7 linked regions of the Homo sapiens genome follow. The protein of the gene in region 2 purifies or fractionates together with the protein of the main gene of each other region. This does not show direct contact. Each region holds a gene or a part of one and is shown on either strand. Other genes may lie near its edges. The genes, in order: LARP1, MNDA, TENT4B, NOC3L, HP1BP3, SPOUT1 and ATXN2.

Region 1 (3,500 bases), on a different chromosome or scaffold from region 2:
CGTTTTTGGTGTCTTTTCCCTGAGTATGTCCCCACTATCATGTATGTAAGCCCCTTAGGTCCTCAGAAGAAGGAAGGGAGAGGGAGCAGATGCATGGCCCAAATATGGAGTTAGTCTACACAAGTCTGCTGCACTAATGGCAAGGTGACCTTGGGAAGCCTGTTCATACCTCAAGGCTTCAGTTTCTCCATCTGCAGATGAAAGGAAGGAGACATTAGAATATTCTAGAAATAGTTTATATATATAAACAGATGAAGTTCACTGTTAAAGAAGTATTGCAATCTCTAACTAAAATTACTACTTCCTTTTTAAGTGCTGAATTTTTCTCCACATACCTGCTCACTGTCACCCACTTTGGAGACCTCTGGCCTGGGGCTTGTGAGGAGACTGCAGAATTGACCTTGAACTTTGGGTCTATGGAATTCTATACTCCCTTATCTATTTTCCCACAGTGATTACCTCTCATCTCCTTTCTCTTGCCTGCCTGTTCATACACAGAATTCCCCACAGTTGTGGCTTCAGCCCTCAAAAAGTGTTGGAGATCCAGCCAGAGACATGAGGAGAAAGGTAGTAAGTAGATGAGGGTTTTACAAAGTCCAGGCCTACAAAGTTTTGTTTGAAACAGGGGTCAGACTTAGCTCCCATTCCAGAATTAGAGCCCCTACTCTGACCTGGTCTATCTTAAACCTTAAAAAAAGATAGGTTTAGAGTTTATGTGCTCTTGGCACAGCAGGGAATCTACTTTTGAATAAATACTGTGGGTTTAGACAAATGCTTCTCTCTCAGCGTCTCATATTCAGTCTATCAAAACAAATAGTTTTTCTTTGCTGAAGGCACCGTGTTTTCTCTTGCCTTTGGAACAATGGTATTCTTTCTGCCTAGTCTGTCCCTATCTTCATCTGGCTTACTTATGTTCATCCTGTGGTAGTCACTTCTTGAAGGAGGCCTTCCGTAACCATTCTTAGTCACAGTTGACTAAGCTCCTTTAACTGTGTGCATCCACAAACCTGCTTATAGCCTTTACCATACCACAATGCAGTTGGCTGTTTGGTTGACTTTCTCCCATTGAGCTCCCTAAGTAACAGGGACCTTGTCTTATTCTGCTTTTAGGTTTTTCATACAGAGCTTAGGACTAATGGGTACTCCCTCATTTATTATATAATTGAACATCTGGTATTACCAGATCCCCGTCTAGGTACTGAGTATATAATGGAAAGCAAGGCAGCTGTGGATCATGGAGCTTCCAGTTTATTGGGAGATGTTGAATAGATGGATAAGTGGATGAATCAACCTGCTGAACTTCTGTGTGTCCACTCCTAAGCTAGGTGCTATGTAGGATATAAAGGTAAATGAGAGCACAGTTCCTGCCTATAGAGAAGTCATCATCAGTTGTTTGTGCATGACTGTGATATGAGCTGTGAGTGGAGGAACCTGGACTTCTATGAAACATCCTTTCTCATAGTCATAAAGCTGACTCCCAGGATGACGCTTGTGACCTGCTGGTGTTACCAGGGTCATAGTTGAACAGTCTTATGTTGAGAGGCTGGAGCTTCCCTCTCATGGTATAGCTACAGAATCTGGGCCAAGGATCTCTGGTGATTCCTTTTCCCCTTCGTCTGTCCTATTTTAGAAGTCAGAGGAGTCCAGATTTTCCCACCTGACCTCTCTGCCTCAGCAGCTGCCTTCCCAGCAGCTGATGTCCAAGGATCAGGATGAGCAAGAGGAACTGGATTTTCTGTTTGACGAGGAGATGGAGCAGATGGATGGGCGGAAGAACACCTTCACTGCCTGGTCTGATGAGGAATCTGACTATGAGATTGATGACAGGGATGTCAACAAGATCCTCATTGTCACCCAGACACCACATTACATGCGCCGGCACCCAGGGGGGGACCGCACAGGCAACCACACCTCGCGTGCCAAGATGAGCGCCGAACTGGCCAAGGTCATTAATGATGGCCTCTTCTACTATGAGCAGGACCTGTGGGCTGAAAAGTTTGAACCTGAGTATTCCCAGATCAAGGTGAGGCTTGGACATAGCAGTGAGTGTGGAGCCTGGTGTGCCTGTATTGTACGGAGAAGAGGAAGCCTGATTAGCTGTGCAATTTTAGGCAGGTCCTTATAATTCAGAGTCTCAGGATTTTTATATATGGGAAGGGGATGATGACTGACATCTAGCTTGGGCATTAGGAGTGAGGGGTGATGTGTAAACACTGCAAACTCTTCAGGTGAGGCGGTGGTGATTATTATCCTATCTGCGGATCCATAGTTAATATTCTGACAGTTGGCTAGACACTTTTGTGGGGAACAGAAAAAGGGTTAGATTGTTATTTCTAGTCTTAAATATTTAGGCATCTAAAAATTTAGAAGCCTTTTAAGAAGCTTGTGTTGAGTATGGAAAATGGAGAAAAGATAAGTCTTTTGAAAAATTGCTGCTGCCTGGAAATAGTCAAAACATCTCTGTTGTGGGATTTTAGAGTGGGTATGTTTGGTGGTAGGTTGTCCTAGGGTGAGCCTTTGTAATAAGTAGCAGTGTGTTTCCTGGAAGTAAGGAGGAAGGAGAGTTGCCCAGCCACTGTGTGATAAGGCAGTAGCAGAAAGAGAGATGGGGAAACACTGGAGCTTTCAGGGGGGAGTGTGTAGTGAGTTCCTGAGGAGCTACTGTCAGCCTGATCTCAGTCTTACTACAGGGAGGGCAGGGCAAGCACTGTCTTCTTCTGGGCTAGCACACTTGTGCCAAGGTAACTGGGGTGAGGAATGGTGACTGGGCAGCTGAGAGCCTGGGGACCAGAATTCCACGTATGTCGACGTGGGAGCTGCCCTCTCCAACTTCCTGCCAGTCTTGATTCCTTAAACAGGCTAGAGCAGCCTGCTTACTTACATCTTTCCCCACTCATCTCATGACCTCTGCAGCAAGAAGTCGAGAACTTCAAAAAGGTCAATATGATCAGCCGGGAGCAGTTTGACACACTGACCCCTGAGCCCCCTGTGGATCCCAACCAGGAAGTTCCTCCTGGGCCACCTCGGTTCCAGCAAGGTGAGAAGCAGACACCTGAGATCCTGACATGGGTGAGAGGATCTAGGGCCCTTGGACTGGGGGCTATCCTGGGGTGGATGCCACAGGCCTTTCCCTGCTTCCTGACTCCTCTCTCTGCCTCTGCAGTTCCTACGGATGCCCTGGCCAACAAGTTGTTTGGTGCTCCTGAGCCCTCCACCATCGCCCGCTCTCTACCAACCACTGTCCCAGAGTCACCAAACTACCGCAACACCAGGACCCCTCGCACTCCCCGGACACCACAGCTCAAAGACTCAAGCCAGACATCACGGTTTTACCCAGTGGTGAAAGAAGGACGGACACTGGATGCCAAGGTGAGGCATTCCTGTCGGGCTGCTCAGAGTCTTGGGTCTACTTCATTGCATTCCAGTGCTTTGCTTCTCTCCCTTGCCTTGTCTGAGCTAAGGAAGTGCTAAATCCTTCACCTGCTCTGTGTTCTGAGGCT
Region 2 (3,500 bases):
GCCTCCCATGTAGCTGGGACTACAGACACGCGCCACCATGCCCGGCTAATTTTTGTATTTTTAGTAGAGAAGGGGTTTCACCGTGTTTATCAATTTTTATCACACTGTTTGGATTCTGTTGTTGTTGGAGTTGATTTGTAGGAGTTGGCTGTATATTCTGGATATAAAGCACTCATCAAATATATAAAGTGTGAATATTTTCTCTCATTCTCTAGGTTCCCTTTTTTACTCTGTTAATTGTGTCTTTGATGTATATAAAAATTAAATGTTGTTGTAGTCTAATTTATCTATTTTATTGTTGTTGTTGTTGCCTGTGCCATCGGTGTCATGTCCAAGAAACCCATTGCCAAATCCAATGTCATGGAGCCTTTCCCTTTTGTTTTATTCTGAGAGTTTCATAGTTTTAATTCCTACATTTAGATATTTGATATACTTTGAGTTACATTTTGTATATGATGTAGGTAAGGGTTCAACTTTTTGTATACAGATGTCACAATTGCCCAACAGCATTTTTGAAAAGACTGTTCTTTCTCATTAAACAGCCTTGACGTCCATGTCAAAAATCAATAAGCCATATTTCTCAGGGTTTATTTCTATGCTATCTATCATATTCCATTGTTCTTTATGTCTGTCTTTATGCCAATACCACACTGTTTTGATTATTGTGTCTTTATAACAAGTTTTGAAAGCAGGAAGTCTGAAACCTCCATGTTCTTGTTTTCAAGATTAAAAAAGGCTATTTAAAGTACCTTTAAATTCTACATGAATTTTAAGACAAATTTTTGTGTTCGTGTAAAAAACACTTCTGGGATTTTGCATTACAGATTACATTGCAAATTGCATTGCATATGCAGTTCCTTGGGTATTGACACCTTAACAGTATCAAGTCTTCTAACCCCTGGACACAGATGCCTTCCCATGTACATTTGTGCCTTCTTTAATTCCTTCAAAGTGTTGTATAATTTACCACCTTGATTAAGTTTATTCCTAAGTATTTTACTACTTTAAGCTATTGTATACAGAAAAAGAACTGTTTCCTTAATTTCCTTTTTGTTCGTTGTTAGCGTATAAAAACACAACTGATTTGTATGTGTTGCCTTTGATTCCTGTAACTTTGCTGGATTTGTTTATCAATTCTAAGTATTTACATAGAATCTTTGGGACTTTCCACATATAAGATCATATCACCAGTAAAGAGAGAGAATTTACCTTTTTTCTTTCTTATTTGGATATTTTATATTTTCTGTTTATTGCCTATTTTTGGTGGGGGCGGGGGGTGGGTGTTAAACCCTCAGTACTATCTCAAACAGAAGTGAACAAAAAAATCATCCTTGTCTTTTTCCTGATGTTTCAGGAGCAAGAGAAATGTTTTCAGTCTCTTACCATTGGGAATAATGTTAGCTATGGTGTTTTCGTATGTAGACTTTACTATGTTGAAGTAATTTTCTCCTATTCTTCGTTTACTGAGTGTTTCTAACATGAAAGGCTATTTAATTTTGTCAAATGCTTTATTTATTTTTTGCATCAATTGAGATGATCATTTTTTTTTTGTCTTTCATTCTGGTAATGTGGTGTATTATCTTAATTGATTTTTACAAGTGAAAAATGAGCATCTGTGTATTTTTCCTCATCTTTCAGGAATAAGAGAAATATTTTCAGTCTTTTACCATTAAGAGTGTTAATTGATTGTTGCATGGTGAGCCATCATTGCATTCCAGGGATAAACCTTAAATGGTCATGATGCATAAATAAATTTAACGTGCTATATAATTATGTTCGCTAGCATTTTGTAAAAAAAAAATGCATCGACATGCATAAGGGATATTGTTTAGAAAATTTTATTTTTCTAGTGCCTCTGTCTGGCTTTGCATTGGAGTAATGCTGAGTCATACAATGAGTTTGGAAGTGTTCCCTCCTTTTCAAATTTTGAAAGACTTTGAGGAATTTTGGTCTTAATTCTTCTTTATATATTTGGTAGAATTTACCAGTAAAACCACTTAGTCTGGACTTTTCTTTATTGAGAGGTTTTTGACTTCTGATTCAGTCTCCTGACTAGTCATAATGACTGTTCGGATTTTCTATTTCTTTATGATTCAAAATTTGCAGGTTGTATGTTTCTAATAATTTATCCATTTATCCATTTCATTTAGGTTATCCCACTTATTGATGTATAATTGTTCAAAGTATTCTCTTTATTTCTGTGAAATCTGTTGTAATGTTCTCTTTTTAGTTTCTGATTTTATTATTTGAGTCTCCTTCTTTTTCTTCTATGTCAATTCAGTTAAAGTTCTGTCAGTATTATTCACATTTTCAGAAAACCAACTCTTTTTTTTATTGATTTTCTTTATTATTTTTCTAATCTCAATTTTACCTCTAATTTTTATTTTTTCCTTCCTTTTGATGGCTTTTGGTTTAGTTTGTTCTACTTTTTTAAGTTCCTTATGGTGTAAAGTCAGATTATTGATTTGAGAGTCTTCTTTGTAAATGTAGTTGTTTAAATCTGTAAATTACCCTCATCACCATATTCTTTGCATTTAATGAAATGATATGTTGTGTTTCTATATAATTTCTCTAAATATGGATTTAAATTTGACTTGTGATTCTTTGTACATGTTTCATTGTTTGTGTTGTTTATTTTCACAGGGTCATGAATTTTCTAGTTTTCTTTCTGTTGATTTCTACTTTTATTCCATTATGATAAAAAAATATACTCTGTATGATTTCAAACGTTTAACATTTATTAACACTTGTTTGGCATCCTAATTTGTGGTATATGTTGGGACAATGTTCCATATGTTCGTGTGAAAAATGTGTATTCTACTGTTGTTGGCTTTACTGTTTTGGATATATCTGTTAGATATAATTGGTCTATAAGTGGTCTATAATGTTTTTCAATATTTATTTTTTCCAAATTTTCTTCTGTCAGATTGTTCTACCTATTATTGAAAGTGGAACATTAAAGTCTCTTACTATTACCTTAGAGTTGTCTATTTCTCCCTTCAATTCTGTAAATGTTTCATATATTAGGAGCCCTGATGTTTTGTGCATGTATGTTTCTAATTGTCATATCTTCTAGGTGAACTGGCCTTTTTAACACTATGTAATATTCTTTGTCTCTTATAACACTTTTTGACTGTTATTTTTATTTTATCTGATCCTAGTATAGCAAACTCTGCTCTCTTATTTAATATTTCAATGGAATATCTCTTTTATTCCTTCACTTTCTATCTTTGTCCTTACATCTGTAAAATGAGCCTCTTGTATGCAACATATACTTGGATCCCCTGTTTTTAAATTCATTGTGATATATATGTATATATAATTTTAATATGCTTTTTGATTAGTAAGTTTAAACCATTTACATTTGAACTAATTATTGATAAGGAAGAACTTAGAACTTATTGTTGCCATTTTTTATTTGTTTTCTGTATGTCTTAATAGGTTTTTGTCTCTTAGTGACTTCTTTTTGTTGATTTTTTTCTGTAGTGAAACATTTTTAT
Region 3 (3,500 bases), on a different chromosome or scaffold from region 2:
TTGTACACTAACAATATAATTCATATTTAAGAATGTCTCAAAATTTAGTATACTGTGTTCAACTAACTTAACTTTCTTTGTTTTTTTTGTTTTGTTTTGTTTTTGTTTTTTGAGACGGAGTCTTGCTATGCCACCCAGGCTGGAGTGCAGTGGCGTGATCTTGGCTTACTGCAACTTCAACACTCCTGGGTTCAAGTGATTTTCCTGCCTCAGCCTCCTGAGTAGCTGGGATTACAGGCACCCGCCACCACACCGGCTAATTTTTGTATTTTTAGTAGAGACGGGGTTTCGCCGTGTTGGCCAGGCTGGTCTTGGACTCCTGACTCAAATGATCTGCCTGCCTTGGCCTCCCACAGTGCTAGGATTACAGACATGAGCCACTGCGCCCGGCCGCTAACTTAACTTTCATTCCACAACTTCCATCTTTTATCCAAAATCTGTGATCATTGAATACTGTCACCATTAATCATTGGCATTTCAGTGTTTGGACTTTTTTTTTCCCCCTTCGTCTTTGTGGACTCTTTTTTAACACTCATAAAGTTTTAACTATTGAAAAGCAAAGGAAACGGTGAGTGACTTTTTGGAGTCTGTCTACCCAGTGGTCACACAAAAGGCTTACTACATTACAGGAAAGATAGGATGGGAAAGGGATACTAGAAAATTCTAAGTCAGGAACGGGGGTGTGTATTAGAAAAATTCTGATCCTGGCATGCCAGATGGCCTTACATCTCAATTTCTTCCGTGAAATTCCTGCCAACAAATCATAGTGTTAGAAGTACAGAAGGGTCCATGGGAACAGAATTTAAGGGCTCCGTTGGTGATACGGAACTGATCAGATGGTTCTCACTTGTTCTCAGATAACCTGTATACTGAATATCACAGGAAGGGTATAGACGTCATGGCAGTGGTTAGATATTCTTGCACCTGCTGAAGCTGAGAAAATTAAAGTAATTTTTTTTCCTGTGGAAAGTAGAAAATCAAGCTTTTGTATGATTTCACACAGCTTTCTATTCTCTCTTTTGTTGACTCTGTTAAGAGTAACATTTAGTGGTGGAAACTATTTCAGGATCACACCCACAACACTAGAGACTGTATTAATCACTTACACACACATAGGTATAGAGTAATCTTGAAGGGGCTGTAGGCCAAAGATAATGCTTTTTTGAAGAATTAGAGACTAGTTACCAGCACCTGGTATTTGCTGTTTCCTACAGAGCTGACTGGACAGCCTAGAGTCTGCTGAGGAATTCAGAGGATGGCCAGTAGAATGTTCTTTCCACCCCAGAATATTTGGTAGGGACTCAGCTGCTGTGGAATGCCAAAAAGGCTTTGAGTTTGTTTCACTATTCTTAAGATTACACGTAATTGTTTTTTTGTAAGAGATTATATATATTCAAGTTGAGGATGGCTTTGAGTTAGACTTTCCTTAATTTGGAATCACACAGCAGATGATACATTTATTTCCATCTGATAAGTTACTTGATGATGTAAAAAGACATTTGAGTTAAAGATTTTTGGGAAAAAAGCTGAATGTTGAGCCATTTATGTTGTGTACTGGTTCCCTATTCACTTGGACAATTTTAAGTCTTAAAACAATCTTAACCATGTGCACAAGAGATTTCACATAGTATTTGGTAATTAAATTAAGGAATTCTAGCTCAAGTCATGCTTTTTGCTGAAATAGTTGTATATATTTAGTGCGGAAACCTGTGTTTTCAAATTAATGTAATAAAAGTTTCAATAAAATGGAAGCCTTTATTACCGTGTTTCAAATGCTATGCTAAACCTTTTCCATTTGTTATTATATTAACCTCCTCATACATAGCCCTACTAATTTTTTTACTTTCTATTTTGAAATAATTACAGATTTATAGGAAGTTGTGAAAAATAGTACAGAGCCCATGTTCCCTTCACCAAGTTTCACCTAATGGTAGTAGCTCACATAACGATAATTTAATGTCAAGAACCAGGAAATTGTCATCGTTGCAATCCATAAGCCTTTTTTAGATTTCACCAGTTTCACATGTATTTGTGTGTGTGTGTATATATATAATTGTATGCAATTTTATCATGTGTAGATCTGGATAGCCACTGTAACAGTCTATAGTTCTATATACAGAGCTACTCCATCACCTCAGGGCTCCCTATGCTACCACTTTATAGCCGCACGCACCCTTCCAGCAACCACTAATCTGTTTGCATCTCTGTAATTTTGCCATTTTGAGAATGTTATATAAATGGAATCATACAGAATGTAACTTTGGCTTTTTTTCTTTTACCATACTTCCTTTGAGAGCCATCCAAATTGCTGCATGTATCAGTAGTTCATTTCTTTTTACTATTGAGTAGTAGTCCATAGTATGGCTGAACCACACAATTTGTTTAACCATTTACTTATTGAAGGACATACCAGAAGGGTGGTTTCCAGTTTTTTGGCTATTGCAAATAAAGCTGCTATAAACATTCATGTATATAAATATTTTTATGTGAATATAAAGTTTTCATTTTGGGGGAATAAATGCCCAAATGTTTGGATTGTATGGTAAGTGCATGTTTGGTTTTTAGAGAAACTGCTGAACTATTTATTTTCTAGAATGACTATATCCTCTTATATTCCTATCAACAATATATGAGATATCCAGTTTCTCTGCATCCTTGCTAGCATTTAGTGTTACCACTTTTTTATTTGAGCGGTTCTAATATGTGTAGTGATAGCCTGTTTTGCCTTATATTAATCAATAAAAATAGCCTCATCTAATCTTAACTTTTTTTATTTTAAAACATCTTGGCAGTATTGAACTTTCTCAATGAAAAATCTCTAAAATTGTGACTTGAAAGGCTTTAATTTTCCAGTTTTTCTTTGGTTTTACTCTTAGCAGTAACATTTTAACTTTTTTTTGTCTTTGAAGTAATTTTCAGTGTTTCCTTTACATGTTGCTTTTTCTTAGAAACTAGTTACTAGCATGAAGTAGATCTTTAGCCTCGTTTTCTAAAAACATAAAAAAGTAAAACTGTGGGGTTTATTTCAAAATTGAGAGTCCTGTCTTTTCATATGAGGATATTTTATAGTCTGTTGGCTTGGCTATATTTTAGGGAGTAAACCTGTGGTTAGTGGTTTGTTGTTGGTGGTGGTAAAGTTTTCTTACAGTATTTTTATACCTGAATAATACCTTTAGACTCTATAGAATAGATACTTGATCTTCAAATCTATCCTAGAATAAATTGTTTTATCTAAACAGCTTTGTGACCTGAGAATTGGGACTTAGTCCCTTAGTTTTCCCTTACTGGCCCTTTGTAGTCACTGTTTTGATTTTGTGAAAGTAACTTAACTCTTAGCACTGTCAGGTATTGTACATTCCTGCCAAAGCAAGAATAAGAATACATAGGATTGTGTTTTAATTCTATAATTAGGTGACTTTTGGCTAATTTCCAGGAACTTGGACTTAATAAAGTACTAGTGATAAGTTTGGAAATTTTAGTGTCCTTGTTCTTTGAAGTTA
Region 4 (3,107 bases), on a different chromosome or scaffold from region 2:
CAAGCAAAGATAAAATTTTTTTTTGCAACTCTTGTTCTTACTATATAAACTTAAATTGTTTTTTATTAAATCTAGGTGTAAAGACTTTATGCAAAGCTCTTATACAACCATAAATTTAAATGCAAATACAACTACAAACCAGTAACACCTCTTATATTAACAATGTTAATTTAACCAATTCTTTTTATGTGACATTTTTGCAGACTTTCCCCAAAACAGATCTACTGCTTGACAGTGAATCTCAGGGAAGTGGAGTTTTCCTTCCTGAACTGGATGAGCCTGAGTACTGCAATGCTCAGAACACTGCTCTGTGGGAACTGCATGCTCTGCGGGTAAGAGTGGCCCTGGTTTTTTTCTTTTTGGGGATGTTTGTGAATAATTGTTTTCCAGTTTTTCTTCAAATAGTTGTTATTGCCAGAGTACTTAATTATATTTTGTTCTGGGGCTGCCTTTTTTAGAATTCCTGTGTTAGTATGCTACATTTTACTTTGCTGTTACTATTCTTTAAGCTGTTGAGGTACATTTTCTAAGGAAGCAGAAAACAGTGTCAGTTCTGTAGGGTGCAGTTGTGGAAGATTTACTGAAACCTTTCCCTTTATTGAAATCTTTCCCTAACACTCTTCAGAGGATTTGTTATCAGGTACATTTCTGTTGAGTCTTATCCAAGGAGACTTTAGTAAGCCCTGTTTCAAGATGGTTTCACCTATGCAGTGATCCTACAGTATGGACAGCATTAGAGTGAGACTTGTAGAAAATAGAAGTGGCAGGTAACCTGTTGTAAATTAACTTTTTTCACTCTGAAAGAGGAATTGCTTTTTGATTTTTCTATTTATATTGTAAAAGCAAGACTAAACTACTTCACTGGTAACTTGATTTGTGTTTTAATCCTATTAGCAAAGATAATATTCTTTCTGTGGGTATGTGCTTCTAATGAATTACATATACTGTACATAGGTGATGAAAAAAAATTTGGTGTAATTTTATTTAAGAAAATCTTTGCTGTGGCTAGTGTTTTTTGTAAAGGACTGACCTGTGCAGAATGTGATTGTCCCGTTTTCCCTTCAGAGGCATTATCATCCCATAGTGCAGAGATTTGCAGCCCACCTGATCGCTGGAGCACCTTCTGAAGGCTCTGGAGCACTCAAACCAGAGTTGAGTCGAAGGTAATATTTAGCATTGCCTTATTCTAAAACTACAGAATTGAGCTGATAGCCACTTACTATGAGAAGACTGTTTCATAAAGTAACATACTACAAAATGTAAAGTGCCAGTTGGGTATCTGGATTGGTCTTGCTTCATATTCCTGAATTGTTCTGAAAGAAAACATGCTATGATTTTGTTGATCACTTAAAACATTTTTTTTCTTCTTCTGTCATTCAACTTGAAAAACATTTTTTTAATCGTGAAAAGTTTCGCACATACAGGATAGTAGAATGGCATAGTGAATGTCCATATGCCCCCCATCACTCAGGTTCAACAATGAATAATCTATGGCTATAGGTGCTTCATGTGAAGATAAAACACAAGTCAACCAAATTAAGCTTCCTTGCTTTCTCGCTCGCTCGGTCTTTTTTTTTTTTTTGAATGGCCCTGTTAGGGCAGGATGAGGAGAAAAAAAAAATGAGGAGAGGGAAGAAAAGAGGTGCTTTGGAACACTGCCATCCAGAAGGGCAGCTTTTTCTTTTTTTGGCCCTTGCAGAGTACCTTCTGACCTATAAGCAGCTTGGATGGGTACTTCCAGCATCTACCTCACACCCAGATGGGGAAAAGGTCCTCCTAAAAGAGTCTTCTTTTCCCTGAACTGTTTACTTACAAAATTTTCACAAGTACAGAAAGGTGAAAAATAGTAATTACTTTTTTTTTTTTTTTTTGAGATGGAGTCTCACTCTGTTGTCCAGGCTGGAGTGCAATGGCGCAATTTCGGCTCACTGCAACCTCCGCCTCCCGGGTTCAAGCGATTCTCCTGCCTCAGCTTCCCGAGTAGCTGGGATTACAGGCACCCGCCACCATGCCCAGCTAATTTTTGTAATTTTTGTAGAGATGGGGTTTCACCATGCTGGCCAGGCTGGTCTCGAACTCCTGACCTCAGGTAATCCACCTACCTTGGCCTCCTAAAGTGTTGGGATTACAGGCGTGAGCCACTGTGCCCAGCCAGTAATTACCTTTTTTTAAATACAGACAGGAAATACTTAAGTTATACAGAGAAAGAGAGAAAATGGTATAAAAAATCCCTCAGTCCATTTATGGTGCCATAAAAAATGCCTAAGACTGGGTAACTTATAAACAACAGAGGGCCAGGCTCAGTGGCTCACGCCTGTAATCCCAGCACTTTGGGAGGCCGATGCGGGTGGATCACCTGAGGTCAGGAGTTCAGGACTAGCCTGGCCAACATGGTGAAACCCCATCTCTACTAAAAATACAAAAATTAGCCAGGCGTGGTGGTGGGTTCCTGTAGTCCCAGCTACTTGGGAAGCTGAGGCAGGAGAATTGCTTGAACCCGGGAGGCGGAGATTGCAGTGAGTCGAGATCTCGCCATTGCACTCCAGCCTGGGTGACAAGAGCGAATCCGTCTGAAAAAAAAAAAACAGAAATTTATTTTCTCAGAATTCTGGAGGCTGGGAAGTTGAAGATCAAGGTGCTGGTAGGTTTGGTTGACTGATGAGGGCGCCTCTCTGCTTCTGAGATGGCATCTTGTTGCTGCATCTTCTGGAGGGGAGGAACCCCATGCCCTCACATGGCAGACAGGACAGAATGGGAGCAGTGCCACAGCTTCACTTCATGAAGCCTCTTCTATAAAGACTTTAACCCATTTATGCCAGAGGTTGCAAATTTTTTTTGTGTGTGAAAAATCAGACCTTGGCGATGACCTTGAGCAGTAGGATATAAATAACTCCTACAAGCTTAGTGTTCTGATAATGGAACACTAGTAGGCATAAATGGGTTAATCCCATTCATGGCTTAATCACCTTTTAAAGCTTTTGCCTCTTAATACCATCACATTGACTGTTAAGTTTCCGTATCTGAATTTTGGAGGGGACACATTGAAACTATAGCACCTTACAATGTACTCATTACCCAGAATTAATATTTTGCTGTAGGTTTTTTCC
Region 5 (3,500 bases), about 140 Mb from region 2:
TTTTTTATTTTTTTTATTTTTATTTTTTTTTGGAGTTCTCTGAAGTCCCTGCATAACCAGTGCCTGGGGTTCTGTGTTTTATAGTAGCTACTCAGAGACATGCTGTGAAGGAAAGGCACAAATAGCAGCAGACCTCCATGTTCCCCTCATATTTCTACTCTTGCTTCAGTCATTCCTCTTGGAGAATACATGAGTTTTTAAATTACTTATTCTCTGAGATTTGCCTGTTGAATTATAAAATGGCTAGTTTCTTAATTATGAGTCTCATGAATATTGCAAAGTAGAATAATTAAACAATTGGGGATGAAATGAGTTTTCCTTTCTATGTAATTTCCTGGTCTATTTTTCTAATAATAGATAAATAACCACCTGACCAGGAAACTTGAGTGACATAAAGAATGTAAGAAAACTGCATTAGTGGTCATTCATTTTCATTTTAGAATTCATTTGTTAATTGGAGACTTTGGCTGGTCCGTTTAATAAGATAAGCTTTTACCTTTTATTGACTCAGATTGGAATACATCTGCTTATGCAATTCTGCTCACCTGATTTTTTAGAACCAGACATAAGTTCAGAGGAATCTGTCTCCACTGTAGAAGAACAAGAGAATGAAACTCCACCTGCTACTTCGAGTGAGGCAGAGCAGCCAAAGGGGGAACCTGAGAATGAAGAGAAGGAAGAAAATAAGTCTTCTGAGGAAACCAAAAAGGAGTAAGGAGTTATGTCTTCTTGCTATTTATATTTGAAGAATGTGTAAAAGGACTTTAGATTAGATTGTTTTAAAGTGTTATAACATTGGTTTATGCTAGGTATTTGCTATTTGGATTTAATTTTTAGAATTACCATTTGAAATAGGTTTATTATATAGTTGTTTGACCTGTTAGAATATGCTGTAGTTAGCAGAACACAATGGTTTGAATAATCCAAAAGTCTTTGTCATTGGCTTTGGAATGTGTTTTTGAGCTTGTAATTTATTGTGGGAGTATCTGATATTTTAAGCATTGGCAAGACTTCAATAAGAAATGAAACATAACTATAAAAATCTGACCTAGAAGACATTTCACTATTTTATTCCTACTTCTGTGCCAGGAGTGGGTTGTTTTTGTGTGCTTATGTTAGAAGGCATTGATTTGTATCAAGCCATTGGTAGTGTGACCTAAAAGTCTATATATGTTTGATGAAATATTCAGTTGAAGAATTGGCTTTGAGAATCTGAAAGTAAAATTTGCTATTGATGTGTATCTATATAAAGTGATGGCAGTTACTTTTTAATTTTTAATTTTTTTTTTTTTTTTTTTGCAGGAGAGCTGATAGTATTCATTCCACTCTTTTCATAATTGGTCAGAACAGTTAGAAATTGCTTTTAACTATAGTCATGCATTGCTTAACAATGGGTATACATTCTGAGAGATACATCTTTAGGCGATTTCATCATCGTGCCAACATCATAAAGTGTACTTACACAAACCTACGTGGTACAGCCTACTACATACCTAGGCTTTATGGGATAGTCTGTTGCTTCTAGGCTACAAACCTGTACAGCATGTTACTGTACTAAATACTGTAGGCAGTTATAACACAACGGTAAGTATTTGTGTATTTAAACATAGAAAAGGTACAGTAAAAATATAATATAAAAGATAAAAAATGGTATACCTGTGTAGGACACCTACCATGAATGGACCTTAAAGGATTGGAAGTTGTTTGGGTGAGTGAGTGAGTGGTAAGTGAATGCAAAGGCCTAGGACTACTGTGTGCAACTTTTAAAACTAAAAAGTTTTTATTTTTAGCAACTTTTAAAACTAAAAAGTTTTTATTTTTAAAAACTTTTAAAACTTTACCAAAAACAAAGACACAAGCCGGACGCAATGGTGCACAGCTGTAGCCCTAGCTACTTAGGAAGCTGAGGTGGGGGGATTGCTTGAGTCCTGAAATTTGAATCTAGATTGGGCAACGTTGTGAGACCTCATATTTATAAAAAAACAAAACTAAGACACATACACACACCTTAACCTAGGCCTGCACAAGGTCAGGGTCATCAATATCACTGTCTTCCACCTCCAGATCTTGTCCCACTCAAGGCCTTCAGGGGCAGCAACACACATGGACCTGTCATTTCCTATGATAACAGTGCTGTCTTTTGGAATACCTTCTGAAGGACCTGCTTGAGGCTGTTTTACAGTTAACTTTTTTTTTGTAGGTAGAAAACATATACTCTAATGATAAAAAGTATAGTATAGTAAACACATAAACTAGTAGCATAGCTGTTTATTATCAGGTATTATGTATAATTGTAATGTGCTTTTTTTTTTTTTTTGAGATGGAGTCTTACTCTGTCACCCAGGTTGGAGTGTGGAGTGCAGTGGCGCGATCTGGGCTCACTGCAACCTCCACCTCCCAGGTTCAAGCGATTCTCCTGCCTCAACCTGCCAAGTAGCTGGGACTACAGGCGTGCACCTCCACACCTAGCTAATTTTTGTATTTTCAGGAGAGACGGGGGTTTCACCATGTTGGCCAGGATGGTCTCAATCTTTTGACCTTGTGATCCGCCCACCTTGGCCTCCCAAAGTGCTGGGATTACAGGCATGAGTCACCGCGCCCAGCCAATATGCTATATTTTTGTATGACTGGCAGCACTGTAGGTTTGTTTACACCAATGTCACCACAAACAAGTGAGTAACGTGCTGCGCTGTGATATTACCACAGCTATCATGTTAACCAGGTAATAGGAGGTTTTCAGTTCCATTATAATCTTAAGGGACCACCATTGTATATGTGGTCTGTTGACCAAATATTGTTACACAGCACATGACCATAAAAGAATAACTTAGTAATAACTATACCTTCTAGCTATAATCTTCAGGGTATTCTTTATCTGAGTTTCATAAGTATAGCTAAGGTCTGTGGAATTTATAGCAACTATCGTGTGTGGGTGTGGGTGTGTTTGTGTGTGTGTGTGTGTGTTTAATGGAGATGGCGTCTCACTATGTTGGCTAGGTTGGGCTTGAACTCCTGGCCTCAAGCTGTCCTCCCTCCTCAGCCTCCTAAATTGCTGGGATTACAGGCATGAGCCACTGCACCCAGCCTATCGTCTGTTGTTAAATGTTCTAATGCACCTATTAGGTGCACAGAGTACTGTTATATACTCAGAATAAAATTTACATAATGCTTTAAATCTCACAAAATTGTTTTGATAAACATACTCTTATAATTCTTGCAACACCTTGGGAAATAGTTGGTTCTATATTACTGTTTTATAGCTGAGGAGAAAGACTCACATCATTTACTAAGATCATATAGCTAGCTAGTAAATGTTTGAGTGAAAATACAAACAAAGGTTTTCTGACTTTAAGAGCTTGAGTTTTTTCCACTATACCATATTGCATCTGTTGTAATTGTTAACTAATGTGCATTTTAAAATTCTCATTTGTCTTATGTACTGAGCCCTTATACCAGTGCTAATTTATGTGACTCCTTTCTCCTGCAGCTAAGAGAAAAAT
Region 6 (3,500 bases), on a different chromosome or scaffold from region 2:
CATGCAGTGGCATGGTCATGGCTCACTGCAGCCTCTACTTGCTGCACTCAGATGATCCTCCCACCTTAGCCTCCTGAGTAGCTGGGATTATACGCGTGCACTTGTAGACAGGAGCTCTTGAAGGGGCCACAGCTGGATCCTGAGCCCCCATCTCTCTCTCTCCAGGACTGTGGAGGGGGAATTCACAGGAGTTGGGAAGAAGGGGCAGGCGTGCGTACAGCTGGCCCGGATCCTGCAGTACCTGGAGTGTCCACAGTAAGGGGGTCACTCCCCTAAGCATGAGGGAGGGGTGTGTCAAAGTGGAGACCAGGTAGGAGGCGGCTTCCCCTGGGAACATCCTGAGGTCAGCATTCTTTCCTAGGTACCTGAGGAAGGCGTTCTTCCCCAAGCACCAGGATCTACAGTTTGCAGGTAACGCTGTATGGGCCCGCCCCCCCATTTCCCCTGGATCATGCCACAGACACTGAGACCACCCAGTCCTACCCTGCGCTGTCCAGGTGGGAAAGCAGGCCTGGGAGAGCAAGACCTGTGTCTGATGCCAAGACGCAGGTCTGTGGCAGAGCCGGTACTCCGCTCCAGGGTCCCCACTGCACCCTGTGTGCCCTAGCACTTCCCAGACTCTTCCCGGCTCTGCCTCCACAGGGCTCCTGAACCCCCTGGACAGCCCCCACCACATGCGTCAGGATGAGGAATCCGAGTTCCGAGAGGGCATCGTGGTGGATCGGCCCACCCGGCCAGGCCACGGCTCCTTTGTCAACTGTGGCATGAAAAAGGTAGGAACAGAAAGATGGGCTAGGACACACCTCCAGGACACACCCTGGCAATGGAGGGCAAGCAGATGGATGTTGCGGAGAGCCCTGGACCTGCCCGAAATCCCTCACTGATGCAAATTTGGGCCAGAGAATTGTGCAAAATGGGGCTCAATAGATAAAGCCAGGAATGAATTTACTGTTGCTTAAAAAGCAAATCAACAGAAGACAGTCCTCATGCTCCAAACAAAACCCTGCAGAAACAAGTTGAAAGTCACTCTGGAGCTGCTCCCATGTGGCACAGAGCCAAGCTGGGATGAGGGCATTAATTTGCCGCCTCTTTATCCTCAAGCCTCCTCAAATCAGAGGCAGAAACCTTTACATGTATGGAGTCCCTTCCTGTCAGAAAGCACAACCCAAGCGCAGTGGCTCACGCCTGTAACCCCAGCACTTTGGGAGGCTGAGGCAGGCGGGTCATTTGAGGTCAGGAGTTTGAGACCAACCTGGCCAATATGGTGAAACCCTGTCTCTAATAAAAGTACAAAAATGATCCAGGTGTGGTGGCACGCATCTATAATCCCAGCTACTCGGGAGGCTAAGGCAGGAGATTCACTTGAACCCAGGAGACAGAGGTTGCAGTGAGCTGAGATCGTGCCACTGCACTCCAGCCTGGGTGAGAGAGCCAGACTCCATCTTAAAAAAGAAAAAAAAGAAAAAAAAGTTGCAGAGCTACCAAAATGTAGAAAACTGAGTTTCATCTACTTCTATCCTGTGCCATGAGCGCCCCAAAGGTGCATGTTTGGCCAGTGACCTGTGTTTTGCACAAATGATCTCTTGTGAGCAGGTTCAGCCGGTGCCAGGGGTGGAGGGTGGCAGGTTGACCTGGACCCCTTGGTCCCTTGCCAGCCCCGGGGCTCCCCTGGTGGCATCTGGAAGAGCCGTGGCCCCTGCTGATCTTGAGAGGAATGGCACCCATTTCTTCTGGCTTCTCCCCAGGAGGTGAAGATTGACAAGAACCTGGAGCCCGGGCTTCGGGTGACTGTGCGACTGAACCAGCAGCAGCACCCAGGTATCTGGAAGGTTCCCCAACCCCTGGGTTGGCCTGATGAGCTCCAGGGTTCAGCCACCTGCTTCCATTCCCTCACCCCATCTTTACAGACTCTGTTACCCCTCCAGACTGCAAGACCTACCATGGCAAAGTGGTATCATCGCAGGACCCTCGCACCAAAGCTGGTCTCTACTGGGGCTACACCGTCCGACTGGCTTCCTGCCTCAGTAAGGACAGACCTTACTTCTCTGAATATCCATCCATCCCTCTGGGAGGTGGCCGGGAGCCTTGCCTGACCCAAATATCAGACCAGGGTTTTTGTCCTGTCAACTTGCTGTGTGTCCTTGGGCAAGTCCTTCCCCTTCTCTGGGCCTTGTTCTCCCTGGATGCACTGCCTGGAATGCTGTTAAGGACTACTGAGCAAAAGTATCATTATTGATCAATAATGTTTCTGTAGGGTTGGGAATGGAGGCAAAAGGGCCAGAGAAGTCAGAGGCCCACTTCATGTTCTTGGTGCCTCTTCCTATCCAGTCTCTGCCCTGTTCCCCAGCCAAGCACAGGCTTGGTGTCTGCCCTGCTCAGTCCTTGACTTTCCAGGAACAGCTCTACCCACCCCTGCTCGGTACACACACACCCCTGCCTCAATGCACACACAGGCAGAGCTCTACCCACCCACCCCTACCTTAGTACACACACGCACACACACACACACACACACCACACAGCTCTTCCCACCCACCCCCGCCTCAGTACACACACACATAATACCCGGAGCTATGGCTTGTGGGGAGCAGGACCTGCACTGAGCTGGCCCCACCCCCAGGTGCTGTGTTTGCTGAGGCCCCCTTCCAAGATGGGTATGACCTGACCATCGGGACGTCAGAGCGCGGCTCAGATGTGGCCTCTGCCCAGCTTCCCAACTTCAGGTGTGTACCTCCTGGGGCTGCGGCCAGGGCAGGAGGAATGTGGCCAGGAACCTGCCTGGTGGGTGAAGCTGCACAGATGGGCCCCTGCTGTCTGGGGTGGGGAGGGACTGAGGTCTGGGCGCTGTGCTGGGTGGGGCCTCGGTGGCCGCTCAGGTGACCCCCTCTTACATGGGCCAGGCATGCTCTTGTGGTGTTCGGGGGCCTCCAGGGTCTGGAAGCTGGAGCGGATGCTGACCCCAACCTGGAGGTGGCTGAACCCAGTGTCCTCTTTGACCTGTACGTCAATACCTGTCCTGGCCAGGGTAGCCGTACCATCCGCACGGAGGTGAGCCCGCCTGCCTCCCCGACTGCCAGCCACTGGGGCCTTGGGATCTGTCCGAGGGGCGGGTGCTACTCTTGCCCTGTCACCCACCCTTGCCCGTGGCTGCCTTGTCTGGAGGTGGTCCTCTCATCCCCCTTGGCCTCTTGCCACAGCGACGAGACATGAGTGTAGCTGGGAGTCAACCATGGGTGCTAGTGCCCGTCCTGTGCTCCCAGACTGGGTGACCCAGGGGGCCCTGCCCACCCCTGCTCCGGGCCTCTGGTTCCTTAGCCGTGCGCTCAGTGATCTCCCAGGGCCCTGGTTCTGCCACTTCCTTGTGTGTGACCACGGTGGGCACAGCAGCTCTCCCCTTGGGGTCTCACTTGCATCTGTCCCACGGGGGAAGCCACGTGCAGCTGGAGCCTTCGTCCTGGCCTCATGGAACCTGTGTACCCACTTTTGGGGTCAGGCATAGG
Region 7 (3,500 bases), on a different chromosome or scaffold from region 2:
GTGCAGCAGTGGCAGTTGATAGTAGGAACTGAGGTCATTAAAGGACTTGGCATGTCATGCTAAAGAGCACCCTGTTGGAAGGAGATGGGGTGAATAAACCCTGGGGCATTGAGGACTGGCTGAGACACAGAGAACAGTTAGTGCACTGAAATAGTTCAACTGTGAGAATTTGGTAACCACCTAGTTAAGGGATGAGCCTGAGGTTTATTTGATAACTAAGTGACTTAATGGATGTACTGGTAAGAGAGAGAGGAAACATGGAGCAAGTTTGAGGGGAAAAACAGTGACTCCGTTTGTGCAGCTAATTGCATATGTGGGCTTGTGGGTCTTTCATTTATTCATAAACGTGTTGAGAAATACCTGCTACCTATCTAGTAAAGTAAGAGATGCATCCTCTCTTAAAGGCAGTCAGCTTAGAGTCTGGTGATTTGAATTGACATGTCCACTGATAGATGTTGACACTGTGAGACTGGCGGTTCAGTTTGAGGTTTCATCAGCATTGCCGATATTGGAGCCATGAAAAACCAAAGAACAGCCAGTGAGAGAAGAGATCTCAGAGAAAATAAAATTGAGAAAGTGAAGGACAAAAAATGTTGTGAAGATAGACCAAGATTGATGGAATCAGCCATAGAGAGGTCAAGTGGGATGAGAATGAGCACGCATCTGTTAAACTTTGTGCTTAGGAGCAGAATCTAAGGGAAGGGACAGTCCAGAGGTTAGAACTCAGGGTAAGATGGAAGAACAGGGGCATCTGGGAGTGAGGCAGTTTGGTTTAGTGTAGAACCTTTTTGTAACAAGCATTCCCTTCTGTCTAGATGACTTTTAGATATGTTTCATTGGCTTGGTACCTTTTAGAATAAAATGATTTAGAGGATCTCTCATTTTCAGGGAAAATAAATATATTCCTCCTGGACAAAGAAATAGAGAAGTCATATCCTGGGGAAGTGGGAGACAGAATTCACCGCGTATGGGCCAGCCTGGATCGGGCTCCATGCCATCAAGATCCACTTCTCACACTTCAGATTTCAACCCGAATTCTGGTTCAGACCAAAGAGTAGTTAATGGAGGCAAGTATTTTGACCAGACTTGTCAATATCATTGATAAAATAGTTTTCTAAATACTTAAAATACTTAAAATAGTTTACATAACTGATATGAATGTGCACTTTAATGATTTGGTGAGTAGCTTTCACTTCAGCATTACTTAAAATTGGCTTTTGTGGATATTAAATTAGTAAAACATTGTATATGTCATTGACATATATATTATTTAGCATGATGAAATATTCATGATGTACTAAGATAAAGTGCTACATTTAACCCAAGACAATCACTTGGCCAAAAACACTTCACATATAAAGAAATTGGAAACTTTGGGTAGGTTCTCAATTTTAAAAACACTGGATAATAAAATTTTTTAGACATAATTTATATGGAAAATTCTAACCTATGTGCAACACTGTGGTTAATATAGATCAATTTTCATTATTTGTTTCTATATTATGCTTACTTCAAGAAAGGATCTGAGGTAACTTATAATACAAGACATGATCAAGAGTCATGTGAAGAAAGTGACTAGAGAAATTTGCTTAAAAAACAACAAAAACAACCCTTAGTCTAAGGGTGGATGTTACAGTTTAGCAACTTAAGTAAAAGAAACCTGAATCTTTAGTAGGAAGACATTTTTTACTCTACCTCTAAATCTAGGTTGAATATATCTTGTAGGTTGTGGATCTTTTCCATAAATCAGGGATACTGAACAACAGTTCTATGGATGGTATGGAAATAGTAATAGCAATAGTATGTTACTAACTTTGTGGGAAAAGAGTGGACATTCAATTTTAGCTATTTAAATTTGGAAAGTTAGATGAAAATAGAGAACACTAAGTTTCCAATTTCATTTGTTTTCATTGAGTCTTTTCTCCAGAATTCCTCTCCAAATGGACACTCTTGAGTATTTTCAGTACTTAATATTGGGGGTGAAATTTCTTTGCTCACTGAGGAAAGATTTTAGTTGTTTATAAACAGAATTTTAAAGTTAAAAAACCTGAAGGGGGCTGAGAAATATATGATACTTAAGTGTGTGGAACCCTATGGAGAGGAGACCTGGACTGTTTGATAAGATTAAGGTAAGTGATATGTAATGTTAAATACTAGCTGTATCTTTACCTAGGCATATCCATCAGTATAAATTTATTTGGTGATGACTGCTTTGTAGTTGCAGTATTTATTAAGCAGTCGCTTAGATAAGTGTTTAACTGTATAAATTATTTAGAAGGTCTCCCTTTTTCTAGTTTAATGAGGTCAAGACTTTTTTTTTGAAATAGCAATGAATATTATCATTTGATACTCACAGGAGTCACAAACTCTAGAAGAGTAATGTTTTATTTCTACTTAAATGGGACTTGCTTAATAAGATTCCAAACTGAGTTCTGGGTTCAAGTGTAAACCTGATGAAAATCATAGATAATTGTAAGGAACCAGCATTTCTAATTGGATATAATAGCTACTGCTTATTTTCGTTATGCCTCAGAGTTAAAACTAATACAGTAAATAATCTTACTCCTGAGTAGGAATTATTGTGATTTATTATGTGAAATTATCTAGTGTATGTTATATTCCTTTAAACAACCAGTTACTGAGAAACAGTTATAGAAGCAGGATTAATAGGCAAAGTCTTAACTGTCTTCTTCAATAGTGTGTATAGATCCTAATTAACCCTTTGGGAACGTGTATTCATTTAAACAGACTTAATCTTAAGGAGGTTAAAGTAAAATGTGAATTTATGTCAGTTAAGTTATGCTAAAACTTATCACAAATCAAATGACTGTCCTCAAAGGGTTAAAATGTACAAGAAATCATTTTTGTCATTTTACTTTTTTTCTGTTTACTTTTTTCCCTCATTTTTTTCTTTAGTTTTTATACTTTCCTTCATATCATTTGTTCTGTCAGGTGTTCCCTGGCCATCGCCTTGCCCATCTCCTTCCTCTCGCCCACCTTCTCGCTACCAGTCAGGTCCCAACTCTCTTCCACCTCGGGCAGCCACCCCTACACGGCCGCCCTCCAGGCCCCCCTCGCGGCCATCCAGACCCCCGTCTCACCCCTCTGCTCATGGTTCTCCAGCTCCTGTCTCTACTATGCCTAAACGCATGTCTTCAGAAGGTACAATACCACAATTTGTTCATGTTTTTGTTTGTCTTTGTTTAACTCCTATGTGAGTTTATAATTACAAAATAGTTTCCTCTTCATTATTTAATAACCTATAATTTCTGTGTTTTAACTTTAGTTTATTAAAACTATTTCTATTAACCTTTTGTTCATTAGAGAGAAATTTGATAAATGTGTGAAGCTATAAACTCTCTTGAATTGTTGTTAAAAAGGGGGTTTATCTCTGCCTGATAATTATGCTTCTTTACAGCCCCAGAAGGGTCTGCCCCACAGCCTTCCCCCTCCTTATTTGCACTGTATACAGTAGTTAAACAAATGAACTTTCTTCAGCC

The links.
Region 1: the proteins of MNDA (region 2) and LARP1 purify together in Homo sapiens (affinity purification with mass spectrometry; one large-scale study listed by BioGRID and IntAct). This does not show direct contact.
Region 3: the proteins of MNDA (region 2) and TENT4B purify together in Homo sapiens (affinity purification with mass spectrometry; one large-scale study listed by BioGRID and IntAct). This does not show direct contact.
Region 4: the proteins of MNDA (region 2) and NOC3L purify together in Homo sapiens (affinity purification with mass spectrometry; one large-scale study listed by BioGRID and IntAct). This does not show direct contact.
Region 5: the proteins of MNDA (region 2) and HP1BP3 purify together in Homo sapiens (affinity purification with mass spectrometry; one large-scale study listed by BioGRID and IntAct). This does not show direct contact.
Region 6: the proteins of MNDA (region 2) and SPOUT1 purify together in Homo sapiens (affinity purification with mass spectrometry; one large-scale study listed by BioGRID and IntAct). This does not show direct contact.
Region 7: the proteins of MNDA (region 2) and ATXN2 purify together in Homo sapiens (affinity purification with mass spectrometry; one large-scale study listed by BioGRID and IntAct). This does not show direct contact.

The regions. Positions count from the first base shown.
Region 1 is NC_000005.10:154,800,377-154,803,876, forward strand, and holds part of LARP1 (la-related protein 1), read left to right. Parts: intron 1-1,630; coding exon 1,631-2,023; intron 2,024-2,913; coding exon 2,914-3,037; intron 3,038-3,163; coding exon 3,164-3,369; intron 3,370-3,500. UniProt on the Homo sapiens protein: RNA-binding protein that regulates the translation of specific target mRNA species downstream of the mTORC1 complex, in function of growth signals and nutrient availability.
Region 2 is NC_000001.11:158,834,351-158,837,850, forward strand, and holds part of MNDA (myeloid cell nuclear differentiation antigen), read left to right. Parts: intron 1-3,500. UniProt on the Homo sapiens protein: May act as a transcriptional activator/repressor in the myeloid lineage. Plays a role in the granulocyte/monocyte cell-specific response to interferon. Stimulates the DNA binding of the transcriptional repressor protein YY1.
Region 3 is NC_000016.10:50,159,806-50,163,305, forward strand, and holds part of TENT4B (terminal nucleotidyltransferase 4B), read left to right. Parts: intron 1-3,500. UniProt on the Homo sapiens protein: Terminal nucleotidyltransferase that catalyzes preferentially the transfer of ATP and GTP on RNA 3' poly(A) tail creating a heterogeneous 3' poly(A) tail leading to mRNAs stabilization by protecting mRNAs from active deadenylation.
Region 4 is NC_000010.11:94,335,833-94,338,939, reverse strand, and holds part of NOC3L (nucleolar complex protein 3 homolog), read left to right. Parts: intron 1-203; coding exon 204-332; intron 333-1,065; coding exon 1,066-1,163; intron 1,164-3,107. UniProt on the Homo sapiens protein: May be required for adipogenesis.
Region 5 is NC_000001.11:20,773,808-20,777,307, reverse strand, and holds part of HP1BP3 (heterochromatin protein 1-binding protein 3), read left to right. Parts: intron 1-557; coding exon 558-711; intron 712-3,500. UniProt on the Homo sapiens protein: Component of heterochromatin that maintains heterochromatin integrity during G1/S progression and regulates the duration of G1 phase to critically influence cell proliferative capacity.
Region 6 is NC_000009.12:128,823,295-128,826,794, reverse strand, and holds part of SPOUT1 (28S rRNA (uridine-N(3))-methyltransferase), read left to right. Parts: intron 1-165; coding exon 166-255; intron 256-361; coding exon 362-411; intron 412-642; coding exon 643-773; intron 774-1,745; coding exon 1,746-1,818; intron 1,819-1,925; coding exon 1,926-2,024; intron 2,025-2,620; coding exon 2,621-2,723; intron 2,724-2,900; coding exon 2,901-3,048; intron 3,049-3,500. Other genes in the region: KYAT1-SPOUT1 (uncharacterized protein LOC127739546), read left to right, coding at 166-255, 362-411, 643-773, 1,746-1,818, 1,926-2,024, 2,621-2,723, 2,901-3,048. UniProt on the Homo sapiens protein: S-adenosyl-L-methionine-dependent methyltransferase that specifically methylates the N3 position of a uridine in 28S rRNA. Required for association of the centrosomes with the poles of the bipolar mitotic spindle during metaphase.
Region 7 is NC_000012.12:111,515,816-111,519,315, reverse strand, and holds part of ATXN2 (ataxin-2), read left to right. Parts: intron 1-888; coding exon 889-1,067; intron 1,068-2,952; coding exon 2,953-3,162; intron 3,163-3,500. UniProt on the Homo sapiens protein: Involved in EGFR trafficking, acting as negative regulator of endocytic EGFR internalization at the plasma membrane.